7 linked regions of the Homo sapiens genome follow. The protein of the gene in region 3 purifies or fractionates together with the protein of the main gene of each other region. This does not show direct contact. Each region holds a gene or a part of one and is shown on either strand. Other genes may lie near its edges.

Region 1 (3,500 bases), on a different chromosome or scaffold from region 3:
CTAACCATATATCACATAAAAAGAAATTTCTAATTTAAAAGAAAACCCCCCAACTACACAGACACACATTTCAGCTAATACTTTGACATGTGAATATGCTCTTCAGTTATTTTTAACGCATATAAGTTAAGATGGTCACCTTTTTCTTCAGAGGTAAATCCTGATGCAGCCTCCACCTTTTCAAGTATTTTCCTCAGTTTCATAATTTTTGTGGCACACACATATCCATATCTAAGTTAGTAAAAAACTATTAATTGATATTGGCATGTATTAAATTATATAACACATCTTAATCACATATTTCTTTTTTTCTTTTTTTTTTTTGAGATAGAGTCTCACTCTATCACTCAGGCTGGAGTGTGCAGTGGCCCGATCTCAGCTCACTGCAACCTCCGCCTTCCAGGCTCAAGAGATTCTCATGCCTCAGCCACCAAAGTAGCTGGAATTACAGGCGTGCACCACCACATCCAGCTAATTTTTGTATTTTTAGTAGAAACAGGGTTTCACCATGTTGGCCAGGCTGCTCTTGAACTCCTGGCCTCAAGTGATCCGCCCACCTCGGCCTCCCAAAGTGCTGGGATTACAGGTGTGCGCCACCACACCTGGCCAACACATTTCTTATACAACTCCAGTATGTCATAAATCAATAGGTTAGACAATTATTTTTGAAGAAAACAATGATAAGCTTCTTCTTGAAGTTTGCAAAATTAAAGATCTAGAACCAGAATTATCCTAGACACTATTATATGCTCTACAAGTAACTGTCATACACTAAGATAAAAAATTTTTAGGTTTGCTGTGACTGATTTTTTAAATAATATTTGCTTGGGAAATTAAAGCATTTACTTTATAAAGCAGAATATACAATTTTGAGAGAGAATATCCTTTTAATACTGAAGTGTGAAACAGCCACCAAGGGAAATGGGAAAGGGAATTTATAAGAAACTGAAAATCTAAAATCTGCAATCAAACCAATTGGCATAATGATGACATTTTCTCTCTTCTTTGTCTGAATGCAAGACACATTCAATCAGTTTAATATCACTTTAAATTTGTAATTCTAAAAATGGCTTCAGAGGAGAACTTGGCGGCTACCATAAGTTTACTAAGGACAAGTCAGAACTAGCTAATTTTATATCCACTTTTTATACTATTCATTCACTCATTAGTTTCCTGCAACCAATACAGACTGAGAATCTACCACTTACATAGTAACGTAACCTGTCAGCCACTGGGAATACAAAATGAGTAAGGTTAAAAAGACAGGGTCTCTGAAGAAAAGCAGAGATTTCAGCACCAAATAAAACCAGTCAGCTATATACAGATATGAATGCTACAGACACAGGGAATCCTGATCACAACAGGGCATCTGACCAGTTTCTTACCGTGGACAGGGTAAGAAAGTGTGATTAACTATGATTCTTAACTGGCTGAACAATAGGATCCAAAGAATGTTTATTCTTCCTCTCTTCTAGGAAGGAGGTGTTAACATGCCTTAGAGTTTCGGGTTTGACCTGTCTTGTTCCAGTATCAATTACTTGGGGGAAAAAAATCGTATGTTTAAAAATTTGCATAAGACAAAATAGTTGATGTGAAAATCAAGATTCACAATTATCTTAAAGAGTAAGATCATTAGAGAAATCATTACAGAATTTAAAGAAAGCAAAAGATATAAGTGAGGAAATTTATTCTCTTATAATTTACTTTCCTAGTCATGTGATATAGCAGATAATTTGGAATCCTCATTGTATTTGAGTATTCTGCTTTTTTGGTTCAAATTTGATATCAAACTATTTTTTACTTTAATTGATAAATAAGAACAGTATATAAAAGGATTCAAATTTATCTTAATATGGACTTTAAATAAATCACTTTCTCTCTATATTCCTGAATGAACAAATTTGTTTTATGATCTATGGTCCTAATTCTTCATAGTTTAAATTTTATAATGTGACATTATCACATATCACTACTACCACTTATTCAAAGTCTTTACTAGATATCTCCTGTCACTTGTGCTTGTACCATTACAAATTGCTTCCTGTGGCCATAAAAAGACATATTTATAATTCCTAAAGTAGGAAATGGAAAAAGAATCACCTTTTTAAGGCAGGTGGAAAGAGGCCAAATATATTCCTTTAACCAAAAAATATGGTACTAAAATACATCTCATCTGTTGCTAGTCCAAAGTATTAAACACTAGCTATTCTATAAAGAATTTCCCTTTCTCCTTTTCTTTCAGATTTAAGAAGCTAGACTACACCAATTTAACTAATAAGCATGATTACTTGTAGCAGAAGTGTTGGAATAAACTATTTCAAAAGATAAGAATCCTAAGTATTATGTATTAGCTTTCCTAAACATACTGCAATTGCTAAATTATAGTTTACTCTAGCAAAATAGGTTAAATCATTTCATGGAATATGCTATGTTCTACACCTTGGCCACATTTAAGAAATTAAATAAGCAAAAAAGTACAAGGACCAAAGGTTTAAAAACGTAATATTTTACCATAAGAACTAATTTTCACCCATCTCTTATTACATGAAGACAAGGTATAAATTAATTACTATACCAGAAAACAGCAAATAGAACACCATGTAAAGGCAAAATAGCAATTTGTTTTCTACTTACATTCTCAGAGGATTAACAATTTCTGTCCTCAGTAGCTCTTGGGTTTCACTATAATATTCTACATCGTTCTTTTCTTTGGGTCTAAGTAACACAGTGTCCAGAACAGAACTAAAAGCAAATAAGCTGCAAAAGAAAAAGGATAATTTTCTTCATGCTGTAAACATATTTTTCAAGAAACAGATTTTTAACAGAATTAGAAGAGGAAAATAAGTAAAGTCTGGAGAACAAATAACATAACAATTTGTGTTTTTCATTAACACAGGTACCAGGACCCCTGTGAAGATACCCATGGTTCAATCATCAGGACCTACAGATCCTTCCATGTTAAGGACAACACCAATAATACTGAGAAAGCAAACGGCAGATTGGCAGTGTTAAAGGATAACAACGTGCCAACAGAATATTAAGAAAGAAAACTTCTTTGCAAAAGTTGATAGAGAGACTACAAATATCAGTCAAATTACAAACAGACAACAGAGGACAGCATTTGGAAACGACTTCCCGAGGCAAGCACTATTCAGTGCCCCACTTCCCTCTCCCCATGCCCCTTTGCAAAGATCTATTACATTAATAAATTTCTTTAAATGCTAAAATCACTTATGAGTGACTAACAGGCCAGGTGCGGTGGCTCATGCCTGCAATCCCAGAACTTTGGGAGGCCGAGACGGGTGAATCACCTGAGGTCAGGAGTTTGAGACCAGCCTGACCAATATGGTGAAACCCCGTCTCTACTAAAAATACAAAAATTAGCCAGGCATGATGGAGTGCACCTGAAGTCCCAGCTACTTGGGAGGCTGAGATAGGAGAATCGCTTGAACCCGGGAGGTGGAGGTTCCAGTGAGCCGAGATCACGTCACTGCATTCCA
Region 2 (3,500 bases), on a different chromosome or scaffold from region 3:
CATAATAGGATGGAAGGAAATTGTTATTTACTATGTATGGGCCACTGGATAAGGCTATTAATCATCACGATTAATTATCACAATTCCCTCTGAGAGACACTGTTATCTCTCCATTCCGAAGGTAAGGAGAAAGTGAAAATCTCTTCCTTGCTCCTCCTCTTGCTGCAGACTTGCTCTCACAACCCTCTGTTACATCCTCAGCTGTCTGCAAAATCTCAGGTTCAGCTTTCCTGACTCCATTGTTTCATGGAGAGCCTTGTTCACGTGCCGGCTTCAGCGCAGGCTGTTTAAGTGTAGTCTTGTGAAGAGAGTTTTAACATATAGATGCTGCATCTGGGGGCTCCCTCCTCAGCTACCAACACTTTTCTGTCCCTCTCTTAGGCTGTGATTGGTGTGGTGCCGTCAGAGGGTCTCTTTGGAATGTAACTATACCACTTATGCTGGGGTGGTGGGGAGTGAAAATATTTTTAAGACCACAAGCTGAGATGGGGGCACCCTCATGTTTTATGTCAGTTAAGCCATTGCCAAACAACTGGAGATCCTAAAGAGCTGGCATCTGTCTTTGAAAGTCACCCAACCTATTATGGGGACAGTCCTCTCACTAAAATCCTGAGGCCAATGGGGTCCCATTCATTCATTTTCTCCTGCCCCACCTCCATCTCCATGTCGTGTAAGTGAGAACATTATCATCAGTTCAGGAGTTATTGACCGTCAGCATACAGGACTTCAGCTTTCAGCAAATTCTTGGCTACCTCTTCCTGTTTTCAAGCTGACATATATACAAAGAATATAAATGAATATTGAGGCTAACTTAATTCAGAAAAAAAATAAAACGTGGTTAGCAAAAAAAAAAAAAAAAAAAATCAAGCCTCCAATTTATGTATCTTAGTAATTTGTTGGCACTTCTCTTAGAGTACCTTCCCTATTGTTTTAGGTTTGCTTTCCCTTTACTCTCTCCTATTAGACTATTATCCCCGTGACGGCAAGGATATAGTGTCTAACTGATTTTCTCATCTCTAGGTGCCTTTCATGCTTAGTAGATCAATGGTGAATTAAAAGGTTTCAAAGTTACTTTATATAATAATGAAATTTAGTTTCCTGCATTGTATTCATGTTCCTATTTCTATCTGTTAGCAATGGTGATTGCAGATCTTCAGCAATGAAGAATGGGTGGCTCATTTTTTTTTTCTTCTCGTTTTTTTTTTTTTTTTTTTTTTTGAGACGGTGTCTCGCACTGTCGCACAGGCTGGAGTGCAGTGGTGCAATCTTGGCTCACTGCAAGCTCTGCCTCCCGGATTCACAGTATTCTCCTGCCTCAGTCTCCTGAGTAGCTGGGACTACAGGCGCCCGCCACCACGCCCGGCTAATTTTTTGTATTTTTAGTAGAGACGGGATTTCACCGTGTTAGCCAGGATGGTCTTGATCTCCTGACCTCGTGATCCACCCGCCTCGGCCTCCCAAAGTGCTGGGATTACATGCGTGAGCCACCGCGCCCGGCCTCTTCTTTTTTTTTTTTTGAGACAGAGTCTTACTCTATCGCTCATGCGGGAGCACAATGGCGTGATCTCAGCTTACTGCAATCTCTGCCTTCTGGGTTCAAATGATTCTCGTGCCTCATCCTCCCGAGTAGCTGAGACTACAGGTGCCGCGCCACCACACCCAGCTAATTTTTGTGTTTTTAGTAGAGATGGGGTTTCGCCATGCTGCCCAGGCTGGTCTCAAACTCCTGAGCTCAAGCAATCCGCCAGTCTCGGCCTCCCAAGGTGCTAGGATTATAGGCGTGAGCCACCGTGCCCAGCCCAGCTCATATTTTATAAATTAGCTAAACAAATAAAGCTCTGGACATCCGGGAACTTATGATTGAAATAAAAAATGGCCTATTATATTTTGATTCAAATTTGTTTATTATATTTAGATTTCTATTTTGTGACATGTTTTGGGGTTCTTTTTTTTTCTTTTTTTTTTTTTTTTTGTGAGACGGAATCTCGCTCTGTCACCCAGGCTGGAGTGCAGTGGCGTGATCTCGGCTCACTGCAAGCTCCGCCTACCGGGTTCACGCCATTCTCTTGCCTCAGCCTCCCCGGAGTAGCTGGGACTACAGGCGCCCGCCACCACGCCTGGCTAATTTTTTGTATTTTTAGTAGAGACGGGGTTTCACCGTGGTCTCGATCTCCTGACCTCGTGATCCGCCCGCCTCGGCCTCCCAAAGTGTTTTTGGGGTTCTTAAGAAGATAAGGTATAAGCTTTTAAAAAGTTATGAAAAACTTTAAAAAGTTATAAAAAATTTTTTATAAATTTATATTTATTGTTACTTTTAACATACTGTGAATTTTATACCCAGGTCAAAGACTAAGTGCCTTTTCATCCAAATGGAATTCTGTGATAAAGGGACCTTGGAACAATGGATTGAAAAAAGAAGAGGCGAGAAACTAGACAAAGTTTTGGCTTTGGAACTCTTTGAACAAATAACAAAAGGGGTGGATTATATACATTCAAAAAAATTAATTCATAGAGATCTTAAGGTAAGTGGAAAATGTACTTTATTAATTGATATATATATAATATAGTAATTTTAAAATATATCTTCTCAGCTGGGCACAGTGGCTCACGCCTATAATCTCAACACTTTGGGAGGCTGAGGCAGGCAGATCATCTGAGGTCATGAGTTCGAAACCAGTCTGGCCAACATGGTGAAACCGTGTCTCTACTAAAAATACAAAAATTAGCTGGGCATGGTGGCGTGCGCCTGTAATCCCAGCTACTCGGGAGGCTGAGGCAGGAGATTCGCTTGAACCTGGGAGGTGGAGGTTGCAGTGAGCCAAGATTGTGCCACTGCACTCCAGCCTAGGTGAAGAGTGAGACTTGTCTCAAAAAAAAAAATTATATATATATATAAAATAAGATAGATAGATATATATTTTTTTCTCTAGTTTTAGAATAGTGGTTGATTGATAGTTATGAGAAAATGGTATCTGAACATTTCCATGCAAATAATTACTGTGACTGGCACAGCCAACTGGCTGCTCTGCCCCTGTTCCTCCTGCCTCCTCTAAGTGACTCAGCTTTATTTGAGAGGCAGAGGGGACTCTGTTGACTGTTGCTTTAGGAATATGGTTCCCTAATCTCTCAGTCATTACTCGCGAGGGCTGTCACAGCTACTGGGTCCAGAGTCTAATACTGTCTTGGTTAAGCATTTCAACCCCATGATTGGAAAATTGCGGTAATCCCGGACTGGGAAAGTGTATCATCCCTTAGTATTTTCATTTTCCTCTGGCTTTTATGGTCCGGACAAGGAGTTTCCCTATTTTTTACTTCTCATTAAAATGACAGAAGGTGAGAGACAGAATAGCCCTTCACAGCCTTTCCTCCATTCCCTATTCCCTGTGACTTGCCTAAGCCTGTCACAAGCTGGCCGTCCTGAATCCTGTCCCTGGACCTTTGCTCATGTTCTTCTCTCTCATGGGACACTCTTCTGCCTGCCCCCTTTGGTTGTAATTCCT
Region 3 (3,500 bases):
CCGAGGTCTTGTTAAAATGTGGATTCTGATTCAGTAGGGCAATACGTTCCACACTTTGAGTAATATAGCTCTAAATTACATTGGAGGTCAACGCCAAATTGAGATTTTAAACTCAAAATGATTCTTTCAACTGTTTTAAAAGGTGAAGGGGAGTGGTTGTGAGAAATTTTAATAGAAGTTAAAAATCTTAGTGTTATGACCATTTTGTGGAGCTTTCACCATCAAAACTATAATCAGATTATGTGAAGATTCTAAGACTTTTTTGGTCTTAAAAAGGTATAAAAGATGTTGAAACAGAAGATCTTGAGGATAAGATGGAAACTTCTGACATACAGATTTTCTACCAAGAAGATCCAGAATGCCAGAATCTTAGTGAGAATTCATGTCCACCTTCAGGTACCTGGTATTGTTTGTCCTTTTCCATAATGGTGCTCTTCTGGTATTTGGTGTGGGGGCTTGTTTTGCAGTACCCAAAGTCACAGCCTTGTGAAAAGTTTTGTAAGGAAAATTAAGAAAGTAAAGAGAATTTATGTTACAATAGATACTTTTTCTATATTTAGAATGCCATTCTCTCCTAGTTCTTCCACTATCTTTTTTTCTTCTTTTACTATCTTTTTTTTCTTCTTCTACCACTAAGAAAGTATGGGCGTGTCTATATTGGAAATGCAAATAGAGTCTTCACCAAAACCCAATGTCTATGAATTCCCAAATCAACCTTGCTTTCTAAATAAATACTACTTCTATTTCTGAGTCACTTGCTCAATTTCCTTTTAGGATCCCTGGGCTGCCCTGCAAGTTGATGAAGTTAGTGTGCTACCCAAATGCGCCTGGCTGAGAGGTTGAGTAGGGGCTGAGATCCAGCCTGTGTCGTTTGCAACACAGTGCACTGAGGGGCTGTGTCCTCCAAGAGGAGCTCCCTTTTGTCATTTACACAAAGGCACTGTATAAGTTAGCTGTGGCCCTGTGAGGCCCCCTTATGCTTCTCAAAGCATATTTTCTTGATGGTTTTATGAGACCGGCAAGTTGCATAATATGCCATAATAAAAAGTTATGTATAAAAGAGTATCAGGAAGGAAATTGGGATTAATAGTGGTGGTAGAAGAAAAATGATATTAGAATAACATCATAAAGAGAAAATGTGCAGATTACGTCTGCAACTGAATGTTACAAGTTTTTTTGTTTTGTTTTGTTTTTTTGGTCATTTCAGAATAAAATCTGTTACCCCTTGGAAAAAAAAAACAGATACATGAATATGAGTTGCTTTAAATTTTCTGACACGTGAAGATTCTTGCATGCCTTTTGTTGTTGTTGTTGTTATTGTTTTTTGAGACTGAGTCTCTCGCTCTGTTGCTCAGGCTGGCGTGCAGTGGCACAATCTCAGCTCACTGCAACCTTGGGTTCAAGTGATTCTCCTGCCTCAGTCTCCCAAGTAGCTGGGACCACAGGCATGTGCCACCACATCTGGTTAATTTTTGTATTTTTTTTGGAGAGGTGGGGATTTCAGCATGTCGGCCAGGCTGTTCTTGAACTCCTGACCTCAAGTGATCCATCCACCTCAGCCTCCCAAGTGCTGGGATTACAGGCATGAGCCACTGCACCTGGCCTTTACATGTCTTTCGTGTGAGTTTAATTCACTTAACCTTTTAGAAATTCTCCCTTTCTCTAAAATGGGTAGGTTAGACTCAGTAGATAATTTCCAAAGTCTTTGCTAGCTCTTAATGATTTATATGCCTACCTGTTATTGAGATAAAGCCTTTGATTATTTTTTAAAACTTCTGGTTATGTTGAGAGAAAATATCATTTGAGAACTTGAAGAACGACAAAGCATTATTGCTCCTTAATAAGAAATTGCTTTGAGAATCCAATGTTAACAGTTTGGTTTTCTTCAAAGATCGTGGGAGGATTTGTTGCTTTTTTCACATACAGCATTGCCTTTAGTAGACAGCTTGTCTTACCCTGAATGGGGCCATTCTTTCTTTGGTTTCTGTTAGCCTTCCATGATTGTATAAAAAATAATTCATGTTTTTTTTTTTTTCTTTCTTGCCATCAATACTTTGTCACTGAGAGAATTCTGTACTTCAAATTAGTGGAAAAGCTAGAATGGTTACCAAGAGAAAGGATTCTAAACTTTCTCCAATGAGGATCTTCTTGCTGGAGTCAGAATTTGTGGACATTAGACTGTAGCTATTGCCGTGATTCCTCAGAGCAGGAACTGTTTGGTAATTTTGCTCCTTTTGTATTCCAGAAGTGTCTGATACAAACTTGTACAGCCCATTTAAACCAAGAAATTACCAATTAGAGCTTGCTTTGCCTGCTATGAAAGGAAAAAACACAATAATATGTGCTCCTACAGGTAAGCCTATTGCCATTACTTACATAGTTTTTCTGTTTGCTTCCTTTTTTTTCTTTTGTTGAATACTGGGACAGAATGGGCAAGTTTCAGTTTTTTCCTTGTTCCATGTGTCTTTTGAGAAAACTGTCCTAATATAATCCTAATGTTTTTTATGGGATTATGTAATTAATTAATTATGTACATTAATGTATTTAATGTATTTTCTTTACCTTTCATGAGAAGGTAAAGAAAAGTGTCCTCTTTTAGCTTGCTTTTGGGTCCTGGCTGTTGGCATGCTACTTAGGGAGCAGCTTGATATTTTTTAGTCATAGTGTAAATTCTGTAATCATTAACATATTTAAATTATCAATTAATTAGTCAGCTCAGTGGTATTAGAAGAGCCAAAAATAAACACCTTTCCAGAGAAATATCTAATATATGAGTTACATGTTTTCTTTTTTCCTTACATGTTAAAAGGTTGTGGAAAAACCTTTGTTTCACTGCTTATATGTGAACATCATCTTAAAAAATTCCCACAAGGACAAAAGGGGAAAGTTGTCTTTTTTGCGAATCAGATCCCAGTGTATGAACAGCAGAAATCTGTATTCTCAAAATACTTTGAAAGACATGGGTAGGTATAATAGTTGCTTCAACTTCTTTTTCTCCAGCTTCATGTAATTGATGTGTTTTCTGTTTTGTTTTTGACAAATGATTTAAAAAAATTTATATTAGATTCAGCTTTTTTATAATCCAGATGTTATCCCTTCATGGATTCAAGTCTTTTTTGTTAGATGTACCAGAAAACTTAAACTCCCCTGGTTTGCCCTTCTATGGGGAGTAAATGACTTCAGGAATAAATTTGATGTTTACGTGGCACATTTAACTTCTTTAGTGATTTTATAATTTATTTGATATTATTCTTTTACGTACTCTTTTCTCTCTTAGTGACTTAAAATAATATATAGTACTATAAATTACAACTAGCTTGGATTTATTGATCTCTTACTATGTGTCAGGCTCTGTGCTAAGGACTTGCCTACAGCTATTCTTCTTTTGGACTCAGGGAGAATTTAATCAGTTGATGTTCTGATCTAGCATTTCATCTTTGTGGTTCCTTATCCACATCGTGGTTAGTAATATGGAATTTCTGTCATTTCCCAGGTATAGA
Region 4 (3,500 bases), on a different chromosome or scaffold from region 3:
GCCTGTAATCCCAGCACTTTGGGAGGCTGAGTGGGGAGGACTGCTTGAGACCAGGAGTTCAAGGCCAGCCTGGCCAAAACAGTGAAACCCTGTTTCTACTAAAAATACAAAAAATTAGCTGAGCATGATGGCACACACCTGTAATCCCAGCTACTTGGGAGGCTGAAGCATGAGAATCGCTTGAACCCGGAGGCTGCAGTGAGCCAAGGTTGCACTACTGCATTCCAGCTTGGGCAACAGAGTGAAGGCTCTGCCTCAAAAAAAAAAAAAAAAAAGAATTAGGAGGCACTGAAGATGAACTGCTACATGAGTCTGGAGAAGAAGAGAAAAATATTTCTGCAGACATGGTCAGAAGAGCATTATAAACAAGGCAGAACCTAACTAGGTCTTGAAAAATGGGTAGAGCTTTGAAAGAAAAGATGCCAAACAAAACCCAAAAACAAAAACCACCTTATGTTTGGAAGAAAGTGCGCAAGCCAGTTTGGCTTGGGCAAAAGACTTGGGTACTTATACACTTATTCATAAAGAGAAGAAAGGCTTTAAAAAGGCAGTTGGTGCCAGCTATGTACGGCATATCTTAAACATAATAGGGAGCATAATAAATGGTCTGTGAATAATGGTGAGTGTCCTGAAGGACAGGCTAAAGAATATGATCTCTTTTTTTTTTTTGAGACAGGGTCTTGCTCTGTGGCCCAGGCTGGAGTGCAGTGGCATGGTGCAATCTCAGCTCACTGCAACCTCCATAACCTGGGCTCAGGTGATCCTCCCATCTCAGCCTCCCCAGCAGCTGCAATTACAGGTGTGGGCCACCACACCCAGCTATTTTTTCTTTCTTTCTTTTTTTTTTTAAGTAGACACAGGGTTTCTCCATGTTGCCCACGCTGGTCTCAAACTCTTGGGCTCAAGCAATCTGCTCCTCTCGGCCTCCCAAAGTGCTGGGATTACAGGCATGAGCCACTGAGCCCGGCCAGATCTTTTTTTCTTTTCTTTTCTTTTTTTTTTTTGAGACAAGGTCTTGCTTTGTTATACCCAGGCTGGAGTGCAGTGATGTGATAATGGCTTGCTGCAGCCTCAATCTCCCAGGCTCAAGTGAACCTCCCGCTTCAGCCTCCTGAGTAGCTGGGAGTATAGGCATGCACCACTACACTGGTTACTTTTTTATTTTTTGTAGAGACGGGGGTCTTAGTATTTTGCTCAGGTGGGTCTCAAACTCCTGAGATCAGGCGATCCTCCTGCCTCAGCCTCCCAAAGTGCCCAGCCCTGAACTTAATCTCAATAAGCAGTAAGAAAATACAAGTTTTGAGCAAATGAGGCAATTTAAAAAAATGGTGCTTCTGCATGATTATTCTAAGCACTGATATGTCACAAAGAATGAAAAGAAAGACATCATGATACAAAAGAGGGTCTCCTATGCACTAAGGCCCTTGTGGGAAAATAGGATAGGGAATACAGGCAGTTTCTGTTCTCAGTGAACTTCCAGATGAATATGTGTGTGTGTGGGAAGCTCTGAGACATGGGACAAGTATATTAAAAAATTTACAGTACAATGTGATACACTATAATAAATGCAACAAGGTTCTATTGAAACACAGAAAGGAGTTATTAACTCTGTTTGGGGGAGCTGTGCAAGGTGTCACTGTGGTATTTCAGCTGAATTCAATATGGGTAAGACTTCACCAGGTGTTAGGAGGGAGGAAGGCACCTAAAGCAAAAATAAAGAAATGAAAGAGCAGGATATGTTCAGGGGTCAATGAAGGGGAGTGCAGGAAAGGATGGTTAAGGTAGGTTGGGGCTGGATTATAGTAACAGATCAAAGCACGTTACCCCGTTGAAAGTTTACGTTTTATCCTTTTACGTGACACAGAGACTGGCAGATTTTTAAGTATAGAAATCGCATGATTATAATTGTGCCTTCGCTAATTCTAGTGCCACTCTGTAGGCCAAACTGGACCAAGTGAAAAATTGAAGCTAGAAAAAGGAAAATCAACAATATGTGATGAACAAGTGGATCTGGAAGGAAAGAAGGCAGCAAAAAAATGTAAATAGGCCGGGCAAGGTAGCTCATACCTGTAGTCCTAACACTTTGGGAGGCCAAGGTAGGATTGGTGGAGAACAGGAGTTTGAGACAGCCTGGGCAACATAGTGAGACCCGTCTCTATCCCCCTCCCCACCAAAAAAAAAAAAGTTTAAAAAAAATTAGCTGGGCATGCTGGCTTGCCCTGTGCTCCTAGCTACTTGGGAGGCTTGAGCCTGGGAGTGCAAGACCCTGTTTCTTTAACAAAAACAAAGAAAACAAGAAAAACTTATGTTTTGGCTAGCTTCATGCCTGTAATCCCAGCACTATGGGAGGCTGAGGCAGGAGGGTCACTTAAGCTCAGGAGTTTGAGACCAGCCTGGGCAACACGGCGAAAGCCCGTCTCTACTAAAAATACAAAAATTAGCTGGACATGCAGTCCCAGCTAGTCAGGAGGGTGAGGTGGGAGGATATTTTGAGCCGGAGGGTGGGGGATGGAGGTTGCAGTAAGCCGAGATGGGCCACTGCACTCCAGCCTGGGCGACAGAGCCAGACCCTGTCTCAAAAACAAACAAACAAATAAAATTTATGTTTTATAGCTGGTGGACAAGAAGACTGGTAATATCAAAGACCAAAAATTGAGAAGTCAAGATAAGTAGCTTAGTTTTAGATTGATTGGCAATACTGTATACACACAAATGGAAATGTCCACTGGGCAGGTAGAAATTAGGTGCTAAAGGAAATGAGGAAAAGAGGTCAGGAATAAAGACACAGATCTGGGAGTTGTTTGAATAAACAGGAAAGAGAGTGAGTAAGTGTACTTTCTCAAAATAGTAAATGCTGAGAATTGAACCATACATAGAAATTGAAGGAAGAAAAAGGTAACGTGATTCTGAAGGATAAAAAGTCCTGAAGAAAATGTCATTATATTTACTAAGAAATTATTGGTGACCTTTAGTATACATATACATATATAGAGAGAGAGATCGTGCAGTGGCACGATCTCAGCTCACTGCAACCTTTGCCTCCCAGGTTCAAGCGATTCTTGTGCCTCAGCCTCCCGAGTAGCTGAGATTACAGGTATGTGCCACTATGCCCTACTAATGTTTGTATTTTTTGTAGAGATGGGGATTCGCCATGTTGGCCAGGCTGGTCTTGAACTCCTGAGCTCAAGTGATTGGCCTGCCTCGGTCTTCCAAAGTGCTGGGATTACAGGTGTGAGCCACTGCACCCAGCCCTTCAGTACACTTTCAGTAGAGCTAATGACAAGAAAGGGGAATGAAAGTCAAATTATCAGGAAAAATAATAAAGAGAAAATAAGAATCTAAATGTCATAAACGAGACTGGATTAAAAAAGAAAAAAGGCCAGGTGTGGCGGCTCATGCCTGAAATCCCAGCACTTTGGGAGGCCGAGGCAGGTGGATCACGAGGTCGGGAGTTTGAACCAGTCTGGCCAACACAGTGAAACCCTGTCTCTACTAAAAAT
Region 5 (3,500 bases), about 66 Mb from region 3:
GGGAGGTGGAGGTTGCAGTGAGCAGAGATTGCGCCATTGCACTCCAGCCTGAGTGACAGAGCAAGACTCAATCTCAAAAAAAAAAAAAAAAAAAAAATCAGAAGGAAATGGCCAGGCGCGGTGGTTCATGGCTGTAATCCCACCACTTTAGGAGGCCGAGACAGGTGGATCACCTGAGGTCAGGAATTTGAGACCAGCCTGGCTAACATGGTGAAACCCCGTCTCTACTAAAAATATAAAAATTAACTGGGCATGGTGTTGTGCACCTGTAGTCCTAGCTACTCGGGAGGCTAAGGCAGGAAAATTGCTTGTACCTGGGAGGTGGAGGTTGCAGTGAGGCAGTTCATGCCACTGCACTCCAGCCTGGGCAACAAGAGCGAAACTCCATCTCAAAAAAAAAAAAAAAAAAAAAAAAGAAGGAATTTTTTATAAGTTTTTCTAAAACTTAAGTATTAATATCAAAAGCACACTCATGTAAGGCCAGAGTCTGGGCTCCTGTGTTGGAACAACCAGGTTTTATCAGAGCATTGATCTGCTCTTTAATAGAAAATGGTGAGAGATTATCGATTATCTTATCTTGTGTAGTCAAAGCTGACTGAAATTGGATGATAGATAATATACTAACACCTAAGTAATTTTTTTCTTTTTTTGAGACAGGGTCTCACTTTGTCACCCAAGATGAAGTTCAGTGGTGCAATCTTGGCTCACTGCAGCCTTGACCTCCCAGGCTCAAGCAATCCTCCTGCCTCAGCCCCCCAAGTAGCTGGGACTATAGGCACACACCACCACACGCAGCTAATTTTTGTATCTTTTGTAGAGACAGGGTTTCACCATGTTGCTCAGGCTGGTTTTGAACTCCTGAGCTCAAGTGATCTGCCTGCCTTGGCCTCCCAAAGGGCTAGGATTACAGGCATGAGCCACTGTGCCTGGCCTAAAAGTAAAACTTGTTTTTCTCCTTTGAATAAAAATGTAATGTAGAATTAATAAGAGACGGTAAAAGATGTATTTACTTTTGCATAAATGGCAAAGAAAAGGTAACTGGGGAGAGTTTGTCCCATGCTGTCTTTATTAGGTCTCTTGATTGAGAACTGAATCTCCTCTATCAGAGTGGTTTTTGCTTTTTGAAATCTTTGAATAATCATTTTGGCTAAAGTAATTACCATTATTTTGTAGTGACCTGTGATTCTATTTTGATCATGTGTTTTAAACCTTTCTTATTTCTATATCAAGTGTTTTAAACCTTTAATATTTGAGATACTTCCCAAAATTAAATTAAGTCTTTTTGACCCAAGCTAACTTGGGCATAACCAGGACCCCTGGAAGTCCAAAAGAGACACATTAGGCTTATTTGGGATGTCAAAGTCATATGGGAAATATTGTCAAATAAGAAATGATGTTTAACTTTCTTTGAGTTATATTTATAAAAGCGTATTATTAATGTGTTCCAAAATTGTATGAGATTCCTAAAAGTCTGATATGTCTTGGTATATGTTATCAGTATATCATTATCATAATTATTATGATAAACTGGTGTGTGCCACACAAATAACCACATATCCTAGTCAATTTCATCTTTGACCGTGGCTATTCTAAGCCTTTTATCATCCACAGACAATTTGTTTTTTTTTTGAGACAGAGTCTCATTCTGTCGCCCAGGCTGGAGTGCAGTGGCGTAATCTCGGCTCACTGCAAGCTCCACCTCCCGGGTTCATGCCATTCTCCTGCCTCAGCCTCCCAAGTAGCTGGGACTACAGGTGCCCGCCACCACGCCTGGCTAATTTTTTTGTATTTTTAGTAGAGACAGGGTTTCACCATGGTCTCGATCTCCTGACCTCGTGATCGGCCCGCCTCAGCCTCCCAAAGTGCTGGGATTACAGGCGTGAGCCACCGCACCCAGCCGACAATTTTTATTTTACTTTGATTCTTTTAAAAAAAGTCGTTTATAATCAGCTACAAAATTTGCTTCATCTTTAAGGAAATTTTTGGAAAAAAACCCTGACAAGTACTCTTGAATACAGGTTTCTGGTAACTTCAGAGATCTTACCATTGGATTAAGCAAAAGCTTCCAGAACTCTAATAAAAACCTGAGGCATTCATGAAGACTGCTAACCCAACATCAAGCAGAGCAAGAATTATTTACATGGGACTAAACTGATAGAGGATAAAAGTGATTTTTATGATTTTTAAAATTTGAAACATTGCTGATTCTTTTTATATTGTTTTTCAGTCAAGAAAATTTTTTCTTTTGTCACAGCAACTGGATAAAAGATACTTTTGTGAGCAAAATTGAAACATTTGTCTTTCTCTCTACCTGATTTCACCAAAATTTGCAAACTATTTGTGTTTACTTTTTTTATTTTCATTTTTAAATTAATTTTTTTTTTTTAGACAGAGTCTTGCTCTGTCACCCAGGCTGGAGTGCAGTGGCATGATCTCGGCTCACTGCAACCTCTGCCTCCTAGGTTCAAGCGATTTTCCTGCCTCAGCCTCCTGAGTAGCTGGGACTACAGGTACATGCCACCACGCTTGGCTAATTTTTCTTTCTGAGGTGGAGTCTTTCTCTGTTGCCCAGGCTGGAGTGCAGTGGCACAATCTTGGCTCACTGCAACCTCTGCCTCGTGGGGTTCAAGCAGTTCTCCTGCCTCAGCCTCCCGAGTAGCTGGGATTACAGGTGCCCACCACCATGCCCAGCTAATTTTTGCATTCTTAGTAGAGATAGGTTTCACCATGTTGGTCATACTGGTCTCGAACTTCTGACCTCGTGATCCACCCACTTTGGCCTCCCAAAGTGCTAGGATTACAGGCGTGAGCCACTGAGCCCAGCACAATTTTTGTATTTTTAGTAAAGATGGGGTTTCACCATGTTGGCCAGGCTGATCTCCAACTCCTGACCTCAACTGATCCGCCCACCACAGCCTCCCAAAGTGCTGGGTTTACAGGCGTGAGCCACCGCACCTGGCTATTTGTGAGTATTCTTATTTTATGACAATATAGTTATTTGCATAAGTTCAATAAGAGTATGTTTTCTTTCATAACAGACCACATTGGAGACACTGGTAATTTTACCAAGGCTTTGACTGAAATGATATATCTTCATATATGATCAGACTGCTTTCAGGAACTGAAGTCAAGTTTACAGAGCCCATAAGAAGACCCTTGGGGGCCAGGCTTGGTGGCTCAGGTCTGTAATCCCAGCACTTTGGGAGGCTGAGGTAGGTGGATCACTTGAGTCCAGGAGTTTGAAACCAGCCTGGGCAACATAGTGAGACCCCGCCTCTATTAAAAAATGTTAACAAGAATAAAATAAAATACAATAAAAGGGGGCCCAGCACTTTGGGACACTGAGGTGGGCAGTTCACTTGAGGTCGGAGTTTTCAAGACCACCCTGGCCAACATGGTGAAGCCACATCTCTACCAACAAATACAAAAATTAGCCAGGAGTGGTGGTGCACACCTGTAGTTCCAGCTACTCAGGAAGCTGAAGTGGGAGAATCACTTGA
Region 6 (2,941 bases), on a different chromosome or scaffold from region 3:
GTCAAGGCTGCAGTGAGCTTTCAGCTTGTGCCACTGCACTTCAACCTGGGTGACAGAGTGAGACCCTGTCTCTAGAAAGCAAAACAAAAAAGAAAGAAAAAAGAAAAAAGAAAAAAAATACTGTCCTCTAGGTATGGGGAAAAAAAGTAAAAAGAAGAAAACAACTCTTTGATATAGGGAGTCATAAAGATGTTTGTCAATATTTTATTTCCTGATTTATTAATTGGTTTAAAAAAATGGGAACAGAGATTTGGCAATCTTAGAAAAGACAACTTTGATCCTTAAGTTACTTATTTACTAGAACTTTTGTTTCTGAGAGGGATACGTTTGGCTTAAATGAATACATGTGAAAATAAATGAAGGTGGGGAAGCAACCAATAACTTTTTGGTTTTTTTTTGAGACGGAGTCTCACTGTCACCCAGGCTGGAGTGCAATGGCATGGTCTCTGCTCACTGCAACCTCGCCTCCCAGGTTCAAGCAATTCTCCCTCCTCAGCCTCCTGAGTAGCTGGGACTAAAGTTGCATGCCACCACACCTGGCTAATTTTTGTATTTTTAGTAGAGATGGGGTTTCACTATGTTGGCCAGGCTGGTCTCGAACTCCTGACCTCGTGATCCACCGGCCTTGGCCTCCCAAAGTGTTGGGATTACAGGTGTGAGCCACCGTGCCCAGCCTGTAATGAAGAACATTTAAAAGCCAGTTCAAAAAGGCAGAGTAGCCTATGGTCCTTGCTACTGGAGAAGCTGAGGTGGGAGGATCACCTGAGCCCAGGAGGTCGAGACTGCACTTCAGCCTGGGTGACAAAGCAAGACCCTGTCTCCAAAAAATTCCACTGATCTTTTTTTTCCCATTGATCCTCTTGTCTCAGCCTCTCCAGTAGCTGGGACTAAAGGCACGTGTTACCATGCACAGCTAATTTTTTATTCTTAGTAGAGACAAGGCCTAGCTATGTTGCCCAGGCTGGTCTTGAACTCCTGGGATCAAGCAATCCTCCTGTCTCGGCCTCCCAAAGCACTGGCATTACAGATGTGAGTCAAAATGCCTGGCCTACAAAGGTCCAGAAGGCAGGGCCAGAAAAAGATATAAAGGATTTTTTTTCCTTTTTATAGAAGCAGCTATAATAATTTTTAGTAAAATGAAACTATTAACTAAGGTTTTTATCAAAATGAAAATTACTTTCCTTGGCATCTGCATTTTGTACAAGGGACTAAAGATAATTGGGGGGAAGGAAGCATACCTCATGATGATGTGGTCTCTAAATGTACTTACTTTTCAACAATTGACTTGGTCTGATCTCGGGCGATGCCAACATAGTGATCAATCTGGGTCTTTAAGGAAGGAAAATAAATTCAGTTGTGGTAACATACAGATCACCAATTTTCCTGAAGGCACGGCTCTTTTGTCTAGTTTAACCATTTTTTAAACACGACTGACCAGTGTAGAAAATGAAAACACCCAGTTTTTAAAAGTTTTTTTTTTTTTTGAGACGGAGCCTCGCTCTCGCCCAGGGTGGAGTGCAGTGGCGCTATCTTGGCTCACTGCAAGCTCCACCTCCCGGGTTCACGCCATTCTCCTGCCTCAGCCTCCCGAGTAGCTGGGACTACGGGCGCCCGCCACCACGCCTGGCTAATTTTTTATATTTTTAGTAGAGACGGGGTTTCACCGTGTTAGCCAGGATGGTCTCGACCTCCTGACCTCGTGATCCACCCACCTCGGCCTCCCAAAGTGCTGGGATTACAGGCATGAGCCACTGTGCCCAGCCTTTTTTTTTTTTTTTTTTTTTTTTTTGAGATGGAATTTTGTTCTTGTTGTCCAGGCTGGAGTGCAATGGTGTGATCTCGGCTCACCGAAACCTCCACCTCCCGGGTTTAAGCAATTCTCCTGCCTCAGCCTCCTAAGTAGCTGGGATTACAGGCATGCGCCACCATGCCTGGCTAATTTTGTATTTTTAATAGAGACAGAGACAGGGTTTCTTCATGTTGGTCAGGCTGGTCTTGAACTCCCATCCTCAGGCAATCCACCTGCCTCCGCCTCCCAAAGTGCTGGGATTACAGACATGAGCCACCACACCTAGCCTTAAAAGTATTTTTAAAACCTCTGGTTTTAGAATCCAAATTACACCATAAACACCCCACACTTTGTTAAAGTGAAAAAATCACTCATCTTTTGCAGAGGTTAAGTCTTACTTGGTAAGTATTTTCTTTAGAGACACTGGAGTATATAACAGTTTCCAATGACTAGAAACTGTGTGTCTAATCTATTTTCTGTCATCATAAATATGTTATGGCTCTTGTGTAACACTAATTCACTTAATACCAAAAAGCCAAAAAGTCTCTTGATGGATGACTTAATCCATAAAGAATAATCTCATGGCATCTAGTATACTTGGTACACATCATCCAACAATGCAAACACCTCATCACACTGATGGATTACCTGAATAACCTAGAGTTTAAAGTTTCCTTTTAGACACCCGGCTTTTATTCATCTAAGCATTTTTTTTTTTTTTTTTTTGAGACAGAGTCTCCCTGTCGCCCAGGCTGGAATGCAGTGGCGCGATCTCGGCTCACTGCAAGCTCCACCTCCCAGGTTCATGCCATTCTCCTGCCTCAGCCTCTCTGAGTAGCTGGGACTACAGGCGCCCGCCACCATGCCTGGCTAATTTTTTGTATTTTTAGTAGAGACGGGGTTTCACCGTGGTCTCAATCTCCCATCTAAGCGTTTTTTTTTTTTTTTTTTTGAGATGGAGTCTTGCTCTGTCATCCAGGTTGGAGTGCAGTGGTGCAATCTCGGCTCACTGCAACCTCCACCTCCCAGGTTCAAGCAATTCTCCTGCCTCAGCCTCCTGAGCAACTGGGACCACAGGCGCCTGCCACCACACCCGACTAATTTTTTGTATTTTTAGTAGAGATGGGGTTTCACCGTGTTAGCCAGGATGGT
Region 7 (3,500 bases), on a different chromosome or scaffold from region 3:
GGTTATCATGCCATTCTTCCGCAAAACCCTCCCCCGCAAAAAACAAAACTCTGTACTATCTCTGCATCTCTTGTGTGTCTACTCTCACCTGACTCTTGTGCCTATAAGAAATTTTCAGGATTAGCTGGGAGCGGTGGCTCACGCCTGTAATCCCAGCACTTTGGGAGGCTGAGGTGGGGGATCACTTGAGCTCAGGAGTTCGAGATCAGCCTGGCCAATATGTTGAAACTTGCCTCTACTAAAAACACAAAAAATTAGCCAAGTGTGATGGTGGGCGAGAGAATCACCTGAACCCGGGAAGTGGAGGTTGCAGTGAGCCGAGATCTCACCACGGCAGTCCAGCCTGAGTGACAGAGACTCAGTCTCAAAAAAAAAAAAAAAAAAAAAAAAAAAGGCAGAATTTGATAAGGTCTCTGAAAATTTGAGTAAAAACGATGAATAGTTTTTTACCTAATAATAAATTCCATAAGAGGTTTTCATTTTTATTCTTAGTTGGTATCTACCATCTAGAACAGGGGTCCCCAACTCCCCCCTAGGCCATGGACCATTATGCGTCCATGGCCTGTTAGGAACTGGGCCACACAGCAGGAGGTGAGCAGCAGGGGAGGGAGCATTACTGCTTGAGCTCTGCCTCCTGTAAGATCAGCAGCATTTGTGAACTGGGCATGCAAGGGATCTAGGTTGTGTGTTCCTTATGAGAATTTATCTAATGCCTGATGCTCTGAGGTGGAACAGTTTCATCCTGAAACCATCCCGCCCATGGAAAAATTGTCTTCCACAAAACTGGTCTCGGTGCCAAAAAGGCTGGGGACTGCTAGTCTAGAACACTGCCTGGAACATTGCAATATCATTGCAGTGATATTTATTGCTCTATAAATATCTGTTAAAGAGTTAAATGTACTGTCTCAGAATGACTTCTGAACATTTGCAATTTGCTAGAAAATTCTCTCATTTTGCTTAAGTTACCCTAGAGGGAAAAGATTAGTTATGTCTTTTGCTAATGAAGAAACTGTGTAAACACCAGGCACGGTGGCTCACACCTATAATCCCACTTTGGGAGGCTAAGGTGGGAAGATCGCTTGAGCCCAGGAGTTGGAGACCAGCCTGGGCAACACAGTGAGATCGCTTCTCTACAAATATTTTTAAAAATTAGCCAGACATGGTGGCACATGCCTATAGTCCCAGCTATTCAGGAGGCTGAGGTGGGAAGATCCCTTGAGCCTGAGAGGTCGAGGCTACAGTGAGCTGTGATCACACCACTGCGCCAGAGCCTGGACAACAGGATGAGACCCTATCTCAATTAAAATAAATAAATAAATAAATTGTGTAGAATAGTAAGTGCTTGTGTATATACTATACATCAGCATCCTAACCTTATTATTATTTAACAAATGTATACCCATCACAAAGAATAATCTGTTACAAGAGATGGCTGAAACTGCCTTACTAGTTGGGACCTCCTTCACTAGGTAAACCAGCTTGAACAAATGTATTCAATACTATGCCTGTAGACATCTTAAGGGATATCGATCCTCAAGACTTTTCATTTTTACTTATATTTTGCAACAAACTATAACATTTTAGATAACTGATATTACACATTTTAAAATAAATCCATTTATTGTTGACATCATTCTCACATGCCACATCTAAGCCACTGGTAATTCCTGTTGCTCTATTTTCAAAACATATCCATAATTCAACTACTTCCCATCACTTTCACCAGCACTAACTACAATTACAGGCACTGCTTTCTCTGATACCTGGATTGGCTTCCTGACTAGGCTACTTGCTTTTGCCAGTTTTAAGGTTAAGATAGGCTATACCACTACTCTGCGTGAAACCCACTTACAGCTTCCATTCCTACTCAGATAAGATAGCCCTCATAAGGATCCGTATGATCTGGCATTTTCTATCTCCCCTAACATTCCTATTTATCATTCTGACCTCATTTCCTACTCCTCTACTACATTTACTCTCTTCAGGCTAACCAACCAGCATGACCTGCCCCCAAGGGCCCCTTGCACTAGCTCTTTCTAGGGTGCTCCTCCTTCAGATAGAAGCATGGCTCTCCCTCATCTCCTTCACTTTTTTCCTCAAATGTCACTTATCAAAGGATGACCTTCCTTTATTATTCTCTATAAATATCCACCCCTTCCTCCTTACCATGCATACCCTGCATTATGTTTCTCCATAGCACTTATTACCATCTAACATAATTACTTATGTAAATTCGTAAAAGGCCTATTATATGTACTACCATATCCCCAGTTCCCAGAAGACGGACAGCCATGTAGTATGCTCTCAATATTACTGAGTGAATGTAATGTTTCTAGCATATTCTTAATTACTAGCAGTTATTTGGAAACATAAGTATTATCTAATAAATATCTCATTTTGGCCAACCTTGCCTTCAATCTAATCTTTAAAATAGGTCTGATTGTCGCCTGTAATCCCAGCACTTTGGGAGGCTGAGGCAGGCGGATCGCGAGGTCAGGAGATCGAGACCATCCTGGCTAACACGGTGAAACTGTGTCTCTACTACAAATACAAAAAATTAGCCAGGCGTGGTGGCGGGTGCCTGCAGTCCCAGCTACTCCGGAGGCTGAGGCAGGAGAATGGCGTGAACCTGGAAGGCAGAGCTTGCAGTGAGCCAAGATTGGGCCACTGCATTCCAGCCTGGGTGACAGAGCGAGACTCTGTCTCAAAAAAAAAAAAAAAAAAAAAAAGATAGGTCTGATTCTCAATACAAGAGATTTTATTTCATACAAATTACAAGGCCAATACTATTTGGAGAGTGGAGTAGACAACAAGAATGAAAGATGAGCATGGAGCAGAAGAAAGGCAAGGCCCTCATTAGTATATAGCAATTAATTGGGCTCCGTCTTGCTCTGTCATCCAGGCTGGAGTGCAGTGGCGTGATCTCGGCTCACTGCAACCTCCACCTCCCGGGCGATTCTCCTTCCTGAGCCTCCGGAGTCCCGAGTAGCTGAGGCTACTGGCATGTGTCACCACACCTAGCTAATTTTTGTATTTTTAGTAGAGATGGGGTTTCACCATGTTGCCCAGGTTGGTCTCAAACTTCTGACCTCAGGTGATCCACTCACCTCGGCTTCCCAAAGTGCTGGGATTACAGGTGTGAGCCACCATGCCTGGCCAGCTGCAGGCTTTTAAAGATGGTCTATAATTTACAGATCTGCATCTTAGCAAATGGGAAAGCCGCACAATAACAGTATAGTTATCTCAAAAGAGAACACTCATGCATTTGAGAGTAAACCACACAAAGGATATTAAGGTGTCTGGATTTGAGGGAATTAACTTTCATCAACTAACACCAGCAATGTTTTTCTAGTCTAGTGTGTAGCTTTTAGTTCACAAGTTGAATATTTTTAAAGTAACCAAGGCCAATTCAGACTCACTATACACGTATTTTTATTTTTTTACTGTGGAAAATTTCAAATTTATATATGGAGAAGAGTAGTATACATCACCCATATGCT

What was found.
Region 1: the proteins of RIGI (region 3) and CYLD purify together in Homo sapiens (affinity purification with western blotting; one study listed by BioGRID and IntAct). This does not show direct contact.
Region 2: the proteins of RIGI (region 3) and EIF2AK2 purify together in Homo sapiens (affinity purification with western blotting, with the first as the bait; one study listed by BioGRID). This does not show direct contact.
Region 4: the proteins of RIGI (region 3) and MARCHF5 purify together in Homo sapiens (affinity purification with western blotting; one study listed by BioGRID). This does not show direct contact.
Region 5: the proteins of RIGI (region 3) and TRIM14 purify together in Homo sapiens (affinity purification with western blotting, with the first as the bait; one study listed by BioGRID). This does not show direct contact.
Region 6: the proteins of RIGI (region 3) and RTN3 purify together in Homo sapiens (affinity purification with western blotting; one study listed by BioGRID). This does not show direct contact.
Region 7: the proteins of RIGI (region 3) and TIA1 fractionate together in Homo sapiens (co-fractionation; one large-scale study listed by BioGRID). This does not show direct contact.

The regions. Positions count from the first base shown.
Region 1 is NC_000016.10:50,783,586-50,787,085, reverse strand, and holds part of CYLD (ubiquitin carboxyl-terminal hydrolase CYLD), read right to left. Parts: intron 3,228-3,500; exon of another isoform or gene 2,897-3,227; intron 2,758-2,896; coding exon 2,635-2,757; intron 248-2,634; coding exon of another isoform or gene 232-247; coding exon 140-231; intron 1-139. UniProt on the Homo sapiens protein: Deubiquitinase that specifically cleaves 'Lys-63'- and linear 'Met-1'-linked polyubiquitin chains and is involved in NF-kappa-B activation and TNF-alpha-induced necroptosis.
Region 2 is NC_000002.12:37,118,981-37,122,480, reverse strand, and holds part of EIF2AK2 (interferon-induced, double-stranded RNA-activated protein kinase), read left to right. Parts: intron 1-2,341; coding exon 2,342-2,522; intron 2,523-3,500.
Region 3 is NC_000009.12:32,488,197-32,491,696, reverse strand, and holds part of RIGI (antiviral innate immune response receptor RIG-I), read left to right. Parts: intron 1-276; coding exon 277-396; intron 397-2,245; coding exon 2,246-2,353; intron 2,354-2,809; coding exon 2,810-2,963; intron 2,964-3,493; coding exon 3,494-3,500.
Region 4 is NC_000010.11:92,297,667-92,301,166, reverse strand, and holds part of MARCHF5 (E3 ubiquitin-protein ligase MARCHF5), read right to left. Parts: intron 1-3,500. UniProt on the Homo sapiens protein: Mitochondrial E3 ubiquitin-protein ligase that plays a crucial role in the control of mitochondrial morphology by acting as a positive regulator of mitochondrial fission and as an important regulator of immune response.
Region 5 is NC_000009.12:98,112,723-98,116,222, forward strand, and holds part of TRIM14 (tripartite motif-containing protein 14), read right to left. Parts: intron 1-3,500.
Region 6 is NC_000011.10:63,754,500-63,757,440, reverse strand, and holds part of RTN3 (reticulon-3), read right to left. Parts: intron 1,330-2,941; coding exon 1,271-1,329; intron 1-1,270. UniProt on the Homo sapiens protein: May be involved in membrane trafficking in the early secretory pathway. Inhibits BACE1 activity and amyloid precursor protein processing. May induce caspase-8 cascade and apoptosis.
Region 7 is NC_000002.12:70,242,129-70,245,628, forward strand, and holds part of TIA1 (cytotoxic granule associated RNA binding protein TIA1), read right to left. Parts: intron 1-3,500. UniProt on the Homo sapiens protein: RNA-binding protein involved in the regulation of alternative pre-RNA splicing and mRNA translation by binding to uridine-rich (U-rich) RNA sequences.